Linked DNA regions of Homo sapiens. The protein of the gene in region 2 purifies or fractionates together with the protein of the main gene of each other region. This does not show direct contact. Each region holds a gene or a part of one and is shown on either strand. Other genes may lie near its edges.

The links.
Region 1: the proteins of TMA16 (region 2) and CLCC1 purify together in Homo sapiens (affinity purification with mass spectrometry; one large-scale study listed by BioGRID and IntAct). This does not show direct contact.
Region 3: the proteins of TMA16 (region 2) and EEA1 purify together in Homo sapiens (affinity purification with mass spectrometry; one large-scale study listed by BioGRID and IntAct). This does not show direct contact.
Region 4: the proteins of TMA16 (region 2) and PRRC2A purify together in Homo sapiens (affinity purification with mass spectrometry; one large-scale study listed by BioGRID and IntAct). This does not show direct contact.

What each region holds. Positions count from the first base shown.
Region 1 is NC_000001.11:108,932,485-108,935,984, reverse strand, and holds part of CLCC1 (chloride channel CLIC-like protein 1 isoform 1 precursor), read left to right. Parts: intron 1-1,042; coding exon 1,043-1,315; 3' UTR 1,316-1,360; exon of another isoform or gene 1,361-1,365; intron 1,366-1,439; exon of another isoform or gene 1,440-3,483; 3' UTR 3,484-3,500. UniProt on the Homo sapiens protein: Anion-selective channel with Ca(2+)-dependent and voltage-independent gating. Permeable to small monovalent anions with selectivity for bromide > chloride > nitrate > fluoride.
Region 2 is NC_000004.12:163,511,690-163,515,189, reverse strand, and holds part of TMA16 (translation machinery-associated protein 16), read right to left. Parts: intron 2,369-3,500; coding exon 2,331-2,368; intron 1,117-2,330; coding exon 1,032-1,116; intron 1-1,031. UniProt on the Homo sapiens protein: Involved in the biogenesis of the 60S ribosomal subunit in the nucleus.
Region 3 is NC_000012.12:92,926,496-92,930,645, forward strand, and holds the start of EEA1 (early endosome antigen 1), read right to left. Parts: upstream 2,801-4,150; 5' UTR 2,572-2,800; coding exon 2,548-2,571; intron 1-2,547. UniProt on the Homo sapiens protein: Binds phospholipid vesicles containing phosphatidylinositol 3-phosphate and participates in endosomal trafficking.
Region 4 is NC_000006.12:31,627,215-31,630,714, reverse strand, and holds part of PRRC2A (protein PRRC2A), read right to left. Parts: intron 2,951-3,500; coding exon 2,476-2,950; intron 1,572-2,475; coding exon 1,381-1,571; intron 1,168-1,380; coding exon 870-1,167; intron 125-869; coding exon 1-124. UniProt on the Homo sapiens protein: May play a role in the regulation of pre-mRNA splicing.

The DNA.
Region 1 (3,500 bases), on a different chromosome or scaffold from region 2:
TATTACAATGGCCTGGAAGCCTCCTTGGTCTCCCCTTCCCCCACATCCACTACCTCTCTGGTCACCTCTTCTCCCTCCGTGCTTACTCTACTTTAGCCATAAGGGCTCCTGACTGTTCCTTGAACTTGAGAGCCTTTGTACCTGCTGTTCATTCTACAGTCTTCATTTATATATCAATCATATGGTTACTTTCTTCAGGCCTTTACTCATTTTTATTATTTTTGGAGACAAGGTCTCACTCTGTGGTCAAGGCTGGGGTGCAGTGATCATAGCTCATTGCAGCCTCAAAATCCTGGGCTCAACCGATTCTTTTGCCTCAGCCTTCTGAGTAACTAGGACTATAGGCATATACGACCATGCCTGGCTAATATTTTTTATTTTTTGTGGATATGGGGTCTTGCTGTTACCCAGGCTGGTCTCAAACTCCTGGCCTCAAGCAGTCTTCTCACCTTGGCCTCCCAAAGTTATGGGATTACAGGTGTGAGCCACCATGCCTAACCATATCACTTTTTCAGACCACCCTAATTTAAACTGTAATTTGACCCTGCCAGCCCACCCACATTCAGCACTCATCTCTTCTCTGCTTTTTTTACATAGCCTCTTTAATTCAACATATCACACTTGTGTGATTTTCTTCTAACCTAAATATAAGTTCCAGTGAGAACAGTTTTATGTATTTTGTTCCTGCTGTATCCCTAACACCTAGAACTTAATATATGCTCAAGAAATATTTGTCAAATGAATTATTCTCACCAGGCAAGAGAAGTTGACAATACTGATGACCAATTCTCTTGACCCCTTCTAAGCTGGGCCACTAGACCACCCAGTATATGCGCTAAGCGTTCCCACTCCTCTGTGGGAGTACTGTGGAGTTTGGTGAGGTATAATAACATTTATATAATTATAACCCAGCACTGGACCCTGGATTTGAAAGAGTTTGGAGCTTGCTACAACGGATTTGGGTGGGAACTTTTTAGATATGTTTGATTACTAAGACTTCACATTACATTAAACAGTTAAAATGTAATTTTGTACTTTATAGCATAAATCACCTGTTTTGGATACAAAGCCCAAGGAGACAGGTGGAATCCTGGGGGAAGGCACACCGAAAGAAAGCAGTACTGAAAGCAGCCAGTCGGCCAAGCCTGTCTCTGGCCAAGACACATCAGGGAATACAGAAGGTTCACCCGCAGCGGAAAAGGCCCAGCTCAAGTCTGAAGCCGCAGGCAGCCCAGACCAAGGCAGCACATACAGCCCCGCAAGAGGTGTGGCTGGACCACGTGGACAGGATCCGGTCAGCAGCCCCTGTGGCTAGAGGAACACCAGCACAAACGACAGCCTCAAGTCTCCTTCGAGCTTTGTAAAGTATACTCTTCACTCTCTTTCTCTTCTCTGCAAGAATTCTGATTACTACAAAGGTGCCAACTTCAACATTCACATTTCAACTTCAACATTCACATTTTTACTGACAATTAGAATTAACAAACACGTTATATATGTAAAAGCTTTTCATTTCATCTTCTCTTTGATATTTACATCCCATAAAGTAAGAAGTGTTTATTTTAAGATGAACAGATGACAGGCATCACTGATTCTGGATAGTTAAGGAGGCCAGTTTGAATTGGGGACATTGAAAAAGAAATTTTATTGTTACAGGCACTTACGGGAACCCACTAACCAATTTACATTGCCTAGTGAATCCACTAGAGTTAAGGCCACCCACTTGATGCCTCCAGCATCTTCATGCAGCCATGGAGTATCGTTACCAGGATCAGTCTGACTGACACCTCAGCTTATCTCTACGCAGGCTGCCCACAGGTCACTGTGGCTGTAGTTTCATCTTTTCCACAGCTATTACTACGCCTGCATCCTTATTGTTCCTTTTACTTTGTTTACTTAGAGAAAACTGAAGACTGCCAGGGCAATTTAGATAACATAGCTTGTTATATTGGTAATCTGTTTTACAGAGTCAGTCGACTGAAAATGACTTTATTCTTTTCCCCCACCAATTGAAGTGCATGGGCTTTTTATAAAACCTATTTTTTGTGTTACTCAGAATCCTAGCAGTGGAGACTATTAGATATTACCATATCTTAATTCATATTATAGCAAATCATATTGTCTTGTCCATAGGAAGTTTGCATTTTTAGAGATCTATACATAGAGAATACCATGATGAGGAAGAAGAGAGTTGGGTGTCTTCCTTAACTGCAGACAGGACATCAGTCAGCACTTTACATTAGTCTTTCTGATTATCAAAAGCATTCCTCATTTTAAACTTTTTAAAAAGCAATGCATAAATTTTGTACCTGTCCTTAGCAGACTTCACAGACATCAGGTGTCCTTTGTTTTAACCATATTCACACTACAAGTTATGTTCAACTGCTTACTAAAAGTGATACCAGTCAGGAATAAAGTCTTTAAATTTTCATGCAGATATTTGTATCCCAAGCACTTGCTTTTTTATTTTAATATGAAATGCAGAATACACATTTTTGGATCCAGGAAGTGTTACTTACGTGCCTGTAACAATGTAATTTTAGGCCAGGTGCAGTGGCTCATGCCTACAGTCCTAGCACTTTGGAAGGTTGAGGGAGGATGATCGCTTAAGTTCAGTTGTTGAAATGCAGAATACACATTTTTGGATCCAGGAAGTGTTACTTACGTGCCTGTAACAATGTAATTTTAGGCCAGGTGCAGTGGCTCATGCCTACAGTCCTAGCACTTTGGAAGGTTGAGGGAGGATGATCGCTTAAGTTCAGTTGTTGAAATGCAGAATACACATTTTTGGATCCAGGAAGTGTTACTTACGTGCCTGTAACAATGTAATTTTAGGCCAGGTGCAGTGGCTCATGCCTACAGTCCTAGCACTTTGGAAGGTTGAGGGAGGATGATCGCTTAAGCTCAGTTGTTCAAGGCTATGTACTAAAAATAAAACTAGCCAGGCATGGTGGTACACGCCTGTAGTCCCAGCTACTTGGAGGGCTGAGGCAAGAGGATCGTGAGGTGGCAGTGAGTTATGATCGAGCCACTGTACTCCAGCCTGGGTGACAGAGCAAGACCTTGTCTCAAAATTATACATGTTAATATATTCTAGTTTAATATTGCAAACATCTTTAGAATTTCATCAGAAACGTGATTTTTTCTAAGAAATGCAAAAGGATTTTAGGATTTTTAACACAGAGGACATGTTTAACAAATGAATCCTGACAGACACCTGCAGTTTAGAATAAATTTGTGAACATCCATGCGTATAAAGTGTCCTCTTGGGACAAGACATGTTCACACTGACTTGGGGAATATGCCCCCAAGGTGAGAGCTGTCTTTTGAACTGTGATCTGACTCTGAAAAGTAGTGAATGCCCCAGGTGATAGACTGTAACTGTGAGTGGAATTAATGCTGCTTGCATGCCTTTTAATCCAAAACCAAATTCTTTTAAAAAATTTTTAAATAAAATTTCACCTTTGTATTCTTTCATTACAGATATCCATTTGGGGATG
Region 2 (3,500 bases):
CTCAGGTCCTCAAACCTCTTTTACCCATTCCCTGGATAACTCGACCATTTCTTTAACTTCAGTGACCAAATCGCAGCCTTCTATCAAACTGCAGACCCTCACATTCAACCACCATCTCAATCTGGATGTCCCCTAGTGGCTTCACCGTTAGCACATCAAAACTGAACTTGTCATCACCCTGTCCCCACCTACCCCCCACCAAACCCCCTCCATCTCCTGGGTTCCCTATCTCAGGAAACAGTTGTCCAGACGAGGAATCTGATGGCTTCCTTGACTGCTCTCTATCCCTTTTATTCCACACCTAAGTTTTCACTGAACACTGAGACTTCTACCTTCTTAATTTCTTTGGAATCTTTCACTTCTTTATCAGGCTATGAGCCAAGCTGAGGCCACCATCATTTCTGGCCTGGATTGTTACAGCAACCTTTCAACGGTTTCCTGACCAGAGTCATGAACCTCTCAGTCTGTTTTCTTCATTCTCAATGTGTCCCTTCTAATGTTAAGTATGATCATTTCAGTTGCTTGCTGTAAAAGCCTCCTGTGGTTCCTAATGTCCTTGGATAAGGTCCCAACTTTTAGACTGACATCTGAGGTCTTTCATGAGCTAGCTATCACTTATTGTACCTGCCACAGTTCCCTCCTTCAACTTATTTTAGTCATATTAAATGTCTGGCAGATCACTAAATACGTTATCTTCATTCTCACTTCTGGGCATTTTTAAATATTCTTCTTTCTTGCTAGGGGTTTTTCAAACTACCTTGCCTCGATCTGCTAACCCCCACCTTTCAGCTGCCAGTTTAGATGACACTTCTCCAGGAAGCCCATCCTGATCCCAAGAAAGTGGCCTAACTACCACTCTGAGACCCAAATAGGTTACAAACCTCCTATAGTGACTAAGCCAGGAAATAGTCTTCCTGATAACAAAGCCCATTTGCTCTTCTGCAAATCCGTAACAGAGCTCTGTGTCTTAAAGAACCAGGCTGGACAATTCCCTTTTCTGACCCTTTGCTCATAATATGCCCAGTGTTTACCTTTCAATTAGTTCACAAGCATCTTTCTTTGAATATCTCTTTTTTTGGGGATCAAGATGATTTTGAAACCATTGCAGTTTTTCACCTATAAACAACAAGTACCAAGACAGTTTACCCCACAAGTCATCATTTAAGCAAGTAAATATTCATTATCATTTTCAACATTAACGTGTTTAAAACAGAACCAAAATTTATGTCAATGTTAAACATAAAGCCTTGTGTGGGCTCAAAGCTAATTAAACCAGTCTGTCACAAATTAAACTGTCAGATTTTAATTTAGAGAAGAAAGAGGAGTGGGAGGGATGCGCTTCTGTATATATTTCTTATCCAATATGGATGCAAAAAAGGAAAATGATTATTTAGTCGAGCTTGAACTTCTAAGTATTTAAAAGCAAAGGACAGCTTGTCAAAAATAATAAAATGAAAACTCCATTAATGATGAGAATGATATTTGCTGAGTATTTAATAAGCTGTAGGCACTATGTAAATAGCTTTATAATCCCATGAGAATTAGTACTATTATTACCCCCATTTGTAGATGAGAGATGTTAAATGACCTGTCCAGGGCCCCAAAGTTAGCAAATACATTAAGCATATAAGAGCTGCCAGGTACTGTGTAGAGTAATTGATATATATTACCAAAGAGCCAACAAAATTCACCCTTGTGAGTAAACCTGACCGTCAGGGTCACTTTCAGTTAGATTTCTCAAGATTACAGATCAAAAAAAATCACCCGGCCCTGTACAATGAGATCCCATTTAAAAATACTATTCTATTACCTGATGAAGCATTGATGGGAGTTCAAATACCTTTAATTTTAATAAAAGAGCCTAACAGTCAGTATTTAAATCTCAGATTTGTGAGTAAAAAATTATTAGCAATAAATCTGACCAAAAAAACAGTGACATGACACTGAGATACAAACTGAAGATGTGTATGTCCACATCATTAAATAAATATGAATTGTGGTTTCTACCTAGGCCATAATCCTTCATAATTCTAATGGTTAGGGAGGTAGAGTTAAACATCAGATAGATGGACAGATGGATATGAATGTTATGTGTAGACAGGTAGGTAGGTAGATAAATATAAACTAACAGTTTCTGGAAAACTGAGCTAGAAATCATTAACACTGTTTATTCCAAAAGTTTAATGATTGATTTGCTTTGTTTAGATCAAGTCTGATCAAATTCACTTTGATAAAAACAGTATTTCACTAAAAGAGTAAAAAGAAAAACAAGTATAGGGCAGAAATGCCCTATACTCTAGCCAGAGTTTCAAATAAGTAAACCCACTTACCAACAAGGTTGAGACGCAAGGCCTTTTCATTCTTCAATCTTTGAAGGAAAGGTAAATATATGTGTTAGAAAATTTCCAAAGCAAGTTTTAAAACTCTGACAATAACAACGAAAAGAAAAACTGCCTAAAGAACTCTAATTAAAAGGTCATTCTTTTACAAATTTGAGAATAATTTTGTTAACAGAAACATTAAATACTATGCTTCTCTTTTGAATCACTAGAATTTTATCAGAAACTTCCTTTAAGCACCTCAATGTCTAAAGGAAGCCTATAGAACAAACCAGTTTTGAAAACACAACTGAAAGCTTTTCTGAATTGTGAACATTCAGATGGGTTCTGTAATATGCAGAATACTTGAGCACAAGAGTAATGCAAACCTTCTGGAAGACTGAGTACTGCCACCAAGATCAAAATGCACTACTGTCATCTTTTAAATTTCAATAAGAACAAAACAGAATGGTTACTTTCAATGAATTTGAAAAGAATTATAACAAACAAAAATTTCATCTATGCTCAGAAAGTGTATAGGTAACACATGCCTCCTATTACTGATATTCTAAACACTTACTCATTCAGGAGACCTCTGGATACCAAGTCTTTGCCAGACTTTAGTTTCTGATAGCCCCAAAGGATACAGCCATGAACAAAAAAAATTCACTGTCCCTGTCCTGAAAAACCTTAAAATCTAAGGGCAATAAAAACATGGAGAAGCATACAGAGCTATAAAAGCATATTTAAAAAGCACCTACCATATGTTTTAGGATTTGGGAAGGTTTTCCAGAGAAGTAAATTTTAAGCTGAGACCTGAACATACAGAGAAGTTATTCAGGATTAAAAAAAAAAAAAGATAGGGACTACGGGAATGGTAAAAGAAAAATCTTAGCCATAGGAGAAGGCTTTGTATAAAGCAGGAAGTATACATGGCTTTTATCCACAAAGAAGTAAGCAAACCAGATTTATCCTCCCATTTTACACAACTAGAAAACTGGAGAAATAAAATGAAATCTTTTGTTATTATTATCATTATTATCATTAGAGACAGGGCCTCACTGTGTAGCTCGAGCAGGACTGCAGTAGTGCTGTCATTGCTCACCACAGCCTCAAACTCCTGGGCTCAAGCAACCATCCTGCCTCAGCCTCCCATGTAGTTAGGACTACTGTTATATACCA
Region 3 (4,150 bases), on a different chromosome or scaffold from region 2:
TTCTACCTTCTAAACTAGTAAATCACCAGATTTAAGACATTTATCAAAATGTCCCTATTAAATACTCAGCATTAACACTGACCCAACTACAAGATAAAAGCTGAACTCCTTCAAAGGGACTCTTACGTCCTCTCACAATTTGGTCTCTAGCCACCACGGTAGCTTCATCTCTTACTAATTGCTACAGACCATCTCACTTCCTAAGCTTCATTGTTCACACTCCTCACAGTACTACCTGCGCCTTTTATGACTCCATCTCTTTGCATTTGCTGTTCCCTCTGCCTGACATGCCCTTCCCTCTTCTGAGCTGTGAATATGCCCCCGTCCCTGAAGCTTTTCCTAATTGCCCTCACCTCCCACAGAGTGCCTCCTGGGTCCTCTGTCCTCTTCATTATTCTATTACATAGCACTGTCATTACTTTTAAATGTTCACCTCCCAAACAGCCTGTGAGTTCTAAAGGGAGGACCCACAGCTTAATCAACTGTTTCCTACCCCTTAGCATGAAGCCTGGCATTTACTGAAACTCAATATAAATACACTGAATAAAAGAAAATTAAGTACTTAACTGTGAGAAACACTTCAAACTTTCCTACTAAAGAGTTAATGCATTTAACACAGTGATTCTCAACCAGAGGCAATTTTGCCCCTAGGGGACATTTGGTAAAATCTGGAGCTATTTTTGGTTGTCACAAGGGGGAAGGGATATAGGGGAATGCTACTGGCATCTAGTGGGGGTAGATGCCAGGGATGCTGCTAACATCTTACAAGGCACAGGGCAGCCTCCCACAACGCAGAATTATCCAGTCACAAATGCCAATAGCGCCGACGTTAAGAAACTCAGTTGTCAACTGACTTATTCAGAAGTGATGATTCAATATCACATCTCTGCAATAACCACAATCAATTTCACTTTTGTAGTTTCAACAGAAGCTTCTTTAACAGTTGATAGGTATGCACCAACATTAAAAATGATCTTCATATAATCTCGATGTTTAACTTTAAACCAAGATTACTAGAAAGCATCCCATATTTCTGAAAACCAATCTATAACTACAGCTGAGCTACCCTTAAACCAGTAAACACTTTTATTTGTAAACTTCAAAGCAAACCACAGGCAAACTAATTTTCACTTGCAGAACTATGACAGAAACACAATCTGAAACATGAGGTAATCAGTTCCTCCAGGTCTGATAAAAGAAAAATCTCCTAAAGCCTGAAAGTAAATCATGCACAGATGTCTTTACTGCTGAACTAAGGAAGTGATGGGGAAAGTAAAGGACATGCCCTTGTTACTGCCAAAATCATCGCTTACCGGGATTTCAAAATTCACAAAACACTGCAAAATACAATTAAATGTCAACACAGGTTGTCAGATAAAGAAGTTAACTATTTCTCCCTCTAATAACTGACCAAGTTTCACATGACTTCATTCTTTCAGGAGAAAGCTAGGCAGAAGCAAGAGCACTCCCTTCCTATCTACTGGATGACTCAACTCTCTTCCGCACATTCCTCGGCTGAATCCTACAAATTCACTAATTTCTTTTGTCCTTTGAACTAGTTATCCTACTCCCTCGGTAAAGAACTAATAGGCTCGGCACCTACTTTTCAATCATTTACATTTTGTTACACCCTATCAGCCTCAAAAAGAAAAGAAAAAAGCTATACCAAAAAAAAAAAACAAATTTAAGTTGACAGGTACAATAACTCTTACAGGAAAAGAGATGTGAATTATGTTATTCTAGTAACTGATTCTTAAATGATACACCTACAGTTTTCTAATGCTCTAATCTTTCTATCCTCAAGGTTTTCCAGATTTCAGAGACAGCACAGGCAGAAACTAAGTGTATATACCACTTGATCAAGCTTACTGCGGATTTATTCTTGGATAGCTAAAATAAGGTAGTGGGGCTTGCACAGAAAACATATTTTTAATTAAAAAAAAAGTTTCCAACAGTGAGTAACATCTTCCTTCTCGGCTGACTGTGCCAGTGTCAGTCCCACGCCTGGGCCCAGGCTAGGCCGGGGCTCACCACACCACCCTCCACTGTGGTCCAAAGGAGAAAGCAGGGCCGTGTGTGGCAGGTGCGCATCGTGTCAAATTGGGGGGCACGGGGAGTGCGGCGGGTGGGGAAAGGCGAAGCAAGCCGCCCGAATCTCCCATGGGGCGTTCTCCAGCCCGGCAGGCGGCGGCTGGCCCGTCCCACGGGCACCAACTCTCCATTTTCACTCCCACTCAGGGTTCCCGGGAGGAACGCGCCGGCACCACACCCTCCAGCTCGCAGCCCGCTCGCACACACGGAGCCCCGCGCCGGAGCGGGCGCCAGGCCTGGACGCGCGGGGCCACCAGGGCTCTGCCTGCCGCCCCGCCGCGCCGGCCCCACCCGCCCTCCCCGCCCCCGGGCCGGGCGACCGAGGCCTAAGCGCCTGCCGGGCTGTGGGGCCTAGGGAAGGAAGGAGCCCGCGCTGAGGAGGGGCGCCCGCGCCGCGGCCCCGAGCTCCGGCTGTCCCGCTCACGTGCTGCCAGAAAGACGGTTTCACTCTCTTACCCTCTGTAAAATCCTCCTTAACATGGTTTAACCACCACCCGGCGCCGCCGCGGTGACTCTCCAGACCCTGCGCGGGGCCACTCACTACTCGGGGTGCGCGGGCGGGAGGGACTGGGCCGGGAGGGGACCGGGAAGGAGGTCGGGGCGAGGCGGTGGCGACGGCCGCTCGGGCGGCCCCGACTTCCCCACAGGCGGCGAGAGGGAGCACGCGAGAGAGAGCGAGCGAACGACTAGGCAGCCTGCGAGCGCCTCCAGCCCGCCCGCCGGGCAGCCCCCGTAACTGACAGATGGGCGGGCCCGCCCGCGGCCGCCGGGGGGCGGGGCGGTGGCGGGCCCGCCCCTCGCCTGTCCATTCGCGGGAGGCGGGGCTGAAGGGGGCCGGTCCAGGCCAGCGACCAATCGGAAGCGGTGGCAACGTGGGCGGCTGCGTGACAGACAGGCGGCAGGACGCTGTCGCCGCAGCTTCTTCCGGCTAGCTGGGGGACGCCGAGGCTGCGGAGTGCACGCCTGGGCTCCGTCAGAGGGCCGCGCCCGCGCGACGACCGCGTGCCCGCTAGTGGGAGGCGGGCGAGGACCCCTGGGGGTGTCCCTCCCTGACCCAGGCGGGAGGAGGGGACGCCTTAGGCTGTTTTGTAAAATGTGTCGGTGTGACCCTTCCGGCGATGGCTCCTGACTCGACGTGGTATTGAGCCTGAGCTATATGCTAGTTTCTGCTGGAAACGCTGACTCTGCCTCTTAGCCCCTGGGTTGAAGCCGACTAGAGAATCTCAGACGTGCTTAACCGGTCTGTTGGGCTTCCCTGCCCTTTTCCAGTCCCAGGTTTCCTTTCCCTGCTCCCTTCCTGCTTCTAATTTCAGCCAAAGAGAAAGCAAAGATTTAGAAAAGAAGGGTAGGAAGAAGCTGGAATTTGAATTGGCAAGAGAAGTTTGAGGTTGTCTTTTCTAGATCAAAACAATTTTTAATAGGCTGATGTTCACATGTTGCACTTTCTAAAGCCCGTGCTTGACCTCCTAAGGAATTTTAAGTCCTATTCTGATAATCGATTTATGAAGTAAATTGTCATTAACGCCTCTGTTTTATAGATTAAGAAGAAAATGAGGTCACAGATAAATATCGTGCCAAAACGACGTGGTCTTTGAACTGACCTCCAGGCACGATGTCATTATTTAACTCGAGAAATCACAGCTTCTGCGTCCTACCATTCTGCCAATATTCACAGCCAAGAGGCTCAACTTAACACCCTGGTAGAAAAAGAGAAGCCTTTAATATTGCTTGAATAGGGAAGGAGAGGGAATAATGGAACTAACCTTGCTGGGAGGGAAAAAAAAAAAAAAAGAAAAAACCAACAGACCACTGAATGAAGCCTATGAAGCAATGAATGGAGTGCTTTTTGGAAAGCACTTCCAGATCTTTTGAAAAGCAGCACAAAATTAAATATTATTTGCAAATCAGTTAATGAATAGGAAAATGTTTTGTAAAGTATAATGCATTATATAATGTAATATGATATTTCTATCCCAAATATATTTGGTTTTTTATTATGTGTGTGTGTGTCTCTCGATGGTGCAGCAGCACGGTCATGCCTACAGCTAATATATGAGTA
Region 4 (3,500 bases), on a different chromosome or scaffold from region 2:
CCTACCCAGGCCAACTTTGGATCCACCGGTGGAGTGCCCCGTTCCCGTAACATAGCAGGTGCATGACGGTCAAATGGCTCTGAGCTTGAGCCCCCACTGTCTGAACGCTCTCGGGGAACTAGGCCTGAAGAAACCAAAGAAAAAGAAAAATAATCCTATTCATGTCACAAGCCCTCCAGCCCAAAAAGCATCTCCCCTCGCGGTCAAGTCAGCTCTTCCATCTCTTGTTCCCAGTAGGTCCGGGCCTTGCCTGCTCTTATATAACAAGGTTATCCACTCAGATTCCCTACAAGAGAATCAACCCACCCCAAATAAATCCTGGCAAATGAAGGACCACTGCTTCTTTCATTCATTCATTCATTTTTGAGATGGAGTTGTGCTATTCATTCATTCATTTTTGAGACGGAGTTTCGCTCGTTGCCTAAGCTGGAGTGCGATGGCACAATCTCGGCTCACTACAACCTCCACCTCCTGGGTTCAAGCGTTTCTCCTGCCTCAGTCTCCCGAGTAGCTGGGACTACAGGCGAGCGCCACCACGCCGGCTACTTTTTTGTATTTTTAGTAGAAATGGGGTTTTACCACGTTAGCCATGGTGGTCTCGAACTCCTGAACTCAGTTGATCTGCCCACCTCGGCCTCCCTAAGTGCTGGGATTACAGGCGTGAGCCACAATGCCTGGCCAACCACTGCTTATTTCTTAACTAAGCCCATTTTTGCAACAGAGCTATCTCAGCAGTGCCAAGCATATGCCCTTCCCTCATCACTATGATGGGCAAAACCTATCGTACCAGAGTCACAGTAAGACCCTAATATCCAATGCCTAAGACTGAGGGGACTTTCCTGTTTCTCACTCCTCCCATGCCCCCTTACCAGAGGGATGCACACCAGGAGGGTAGAAGTCTAGAGGGGGACGACCCTGGAGGAGCCGGGGGTCCACATAAGGAGGAATCATCATCCATCGGGGATCAAAGTTCATTGGGGGCATGGGTGGGGGCCGGCCCAGAGCACCTGGGTACAGGGCCTTGGGGGGCGGGGGTGGAGCCTGTGGAGCTGGCACAGCCCCCAGGGTCACAGGCTGTGGTGGTGATGGGGGCACTGGGGTAGGAGGGGCAGAGCCCTGTTGATGCTGCTGCCACTGGTGCTGCTGCTGCTGCTTCAGGAGCTGCTCCTAGGAAAGGAGGAAAGACAAGATGAGAGAGGCTCAAAGCACACATGGACAAAGGAATCAGCAAAGAAAAAACTTGGACTAGGGGAAATTGGCGTGACAATGGAGACAACTGGACAAAGAAGCAAAGGGACCCAGAAGGTAACTTATGAAGAGAATTAGGGACCGAAGCCAGGAAGAAAAGCAGCCCTTAGAGGGTAAACAACTTGATTTCACCTGCTGCTGCCGCTGGAAACGAGGAGGCAACGACTTCTGATATTTGGGGTAGCCCAAGCCCTGACTAGGGGGCTGGCGGGTGGGACCAATCCCATCACCCTTGGGTTCCACCTTTGGAACTGGGGGTGTGGTAGGAGGAGGAACCTCTTCTGGTGGTTCAGGACCCTCTTTTGAGGGCAGTTGTGGTTCCACTGCATCGGAAAAAACACAACAGAGTGATCTAGTCCAACAATAGACACTCCATGAACACCCCAGGAATCTCACGTCTCATCTCTAGCTCCCTTAAGACTAAAATATTCTATTCAACATCTATTCTATTGAAGCCCCTCCCATTTAAGACCCATTAAAGCACTTCATGGCCTCTCATGAGCCTATGGTGGTGGCATTAACTTTCTATGAAACCATTAGAACAACAGTACTTTCTTCAGTCTTGGCCTATAGGAAATAGTTTTCATTTTTATTTATGTATTTCTTGTGAGACAGGATTTTTTTTTGAGACAGAGTCTTGCTCTGTCACCCAGGCTGGAGTGCAATGGCATGGTCTTGGCTCACAGAAATCTCTGCCTCCCGGGTTAAAGCGATTCTACTACCTCAGCCTCCCAAGCAGCTGGGACTACAAGCACATGCCACCACACTTGGCTAATTTTTGTATTTTTAGTAGAGACGGGTTTCACTATGTTGGCCAGGCTGATCTTGAACTCCTGACCTCATGTTCTGCCCGCCTCGGCCTCCCAGAGTGCTGGGATTACAAGTGTGAGCCACCATGCCTGGCCGACAGGGTCTTGCTTTGTTGCCCAGGCTGGTCTCAAACTCCCTAGGCTCAAGCGATCCTCCACCCCAAGCCTCCCTAAGTGTTGGGATTATAGGCGTGAGCTACAGTACTCTGCCAAGAAATGGTATTAGACTACAACCTAAGATTCCAGACAAAACCTTCCCTCCTTCAGATATACAAATGATAGAACACTATCACTGATAGTCCAATAAACCAAAACAACTGCCTTCTACTTCATTTATCCCCAGCCTTACCACCCTGCACCTTTAAGCACCTTGAAGCAGTGATCTGACATCTGGTAGTACCTATCCCCATCTCCATACCTGGGCTGGCTTCGAAGCTGCCACTGCTGGTGCTACTGGTACTGCCACCACCACTCACCAGAGTGGGAGCCGCAGCCACACCTGGAGTAGGAGTAGATTGGGCAGGAGGGGCCTGTGCTGGCTCTTCAGGTTCTGTCTCTGGTGTTGGGGCTGATGCTGGAGGTGGAGCTGGAGGTGCAGGGAGTTCTTTAGGGACTGCAGGTGGTGGAGCTGGGGTAGAAGGGGCAGCAGGTGGGGCAGCAGGCTCTGCTTTGAGCCGCTTGTCAGGTGCCCCAAACTTTTCATCGAGTCGCTTGAGCTTCTCAGCACAGGCTGCCCGGCGCTCTTCTTGCATGCGCCGCTCCTCTTCTTCTCGCCGTCGCCGGGCCCGCTCCACTGCCAGGGAAATCTCAGATGACGACTGCTTTCGTCGCTGCCGCCATGCCTCATCCTCATCTTCAGGTGCTGGGGGCTTGCAGGGAGGACCCCCACGATCCTGTCAATTGGCAAGACCCAGCAGGGCCAGGGGAATCAGTTACTATGCTTTCTATCATCTCTTTTACAACAAATCAACTGTCGCTACTTGCAGGATGCAACGACCCAGGCTTTGGGGTTGATCTCTCTGGGTGGTGACAAACTCATTATCCTGGTCTTCTTTGAGACCACGTCTTGCTATGTTGCCCAGGCTGGTCTTGAACTTGGGCTCAAGTGATCCTTCTGCTTCAGCCTGCTGAGTAGCTTGGACTACTGATGCATACTAACAGATCCAGCTATCTAGCCACCCTAGTCTTTTTATTTTTCTGTTCCCTCTCTCCTTCCGAAACCCAAACACCCAGGGCTCCTTTTTCTTCTTTCCTCATTAGCATCCCAGTTTCTCACTTCTTACCCAGACTCCCCTATTACCAAAGATATTTAAAAGCTTCCCAGGATGTTCTGCAGCCTGGCACTTCACACAGCCCATTTTTAGCACCCCCCTTCCTCTATATCACAACCGCTTCAATTACTCAGCTGACACCAATTTCCCACAGCTGACCCTCTCAATCCCT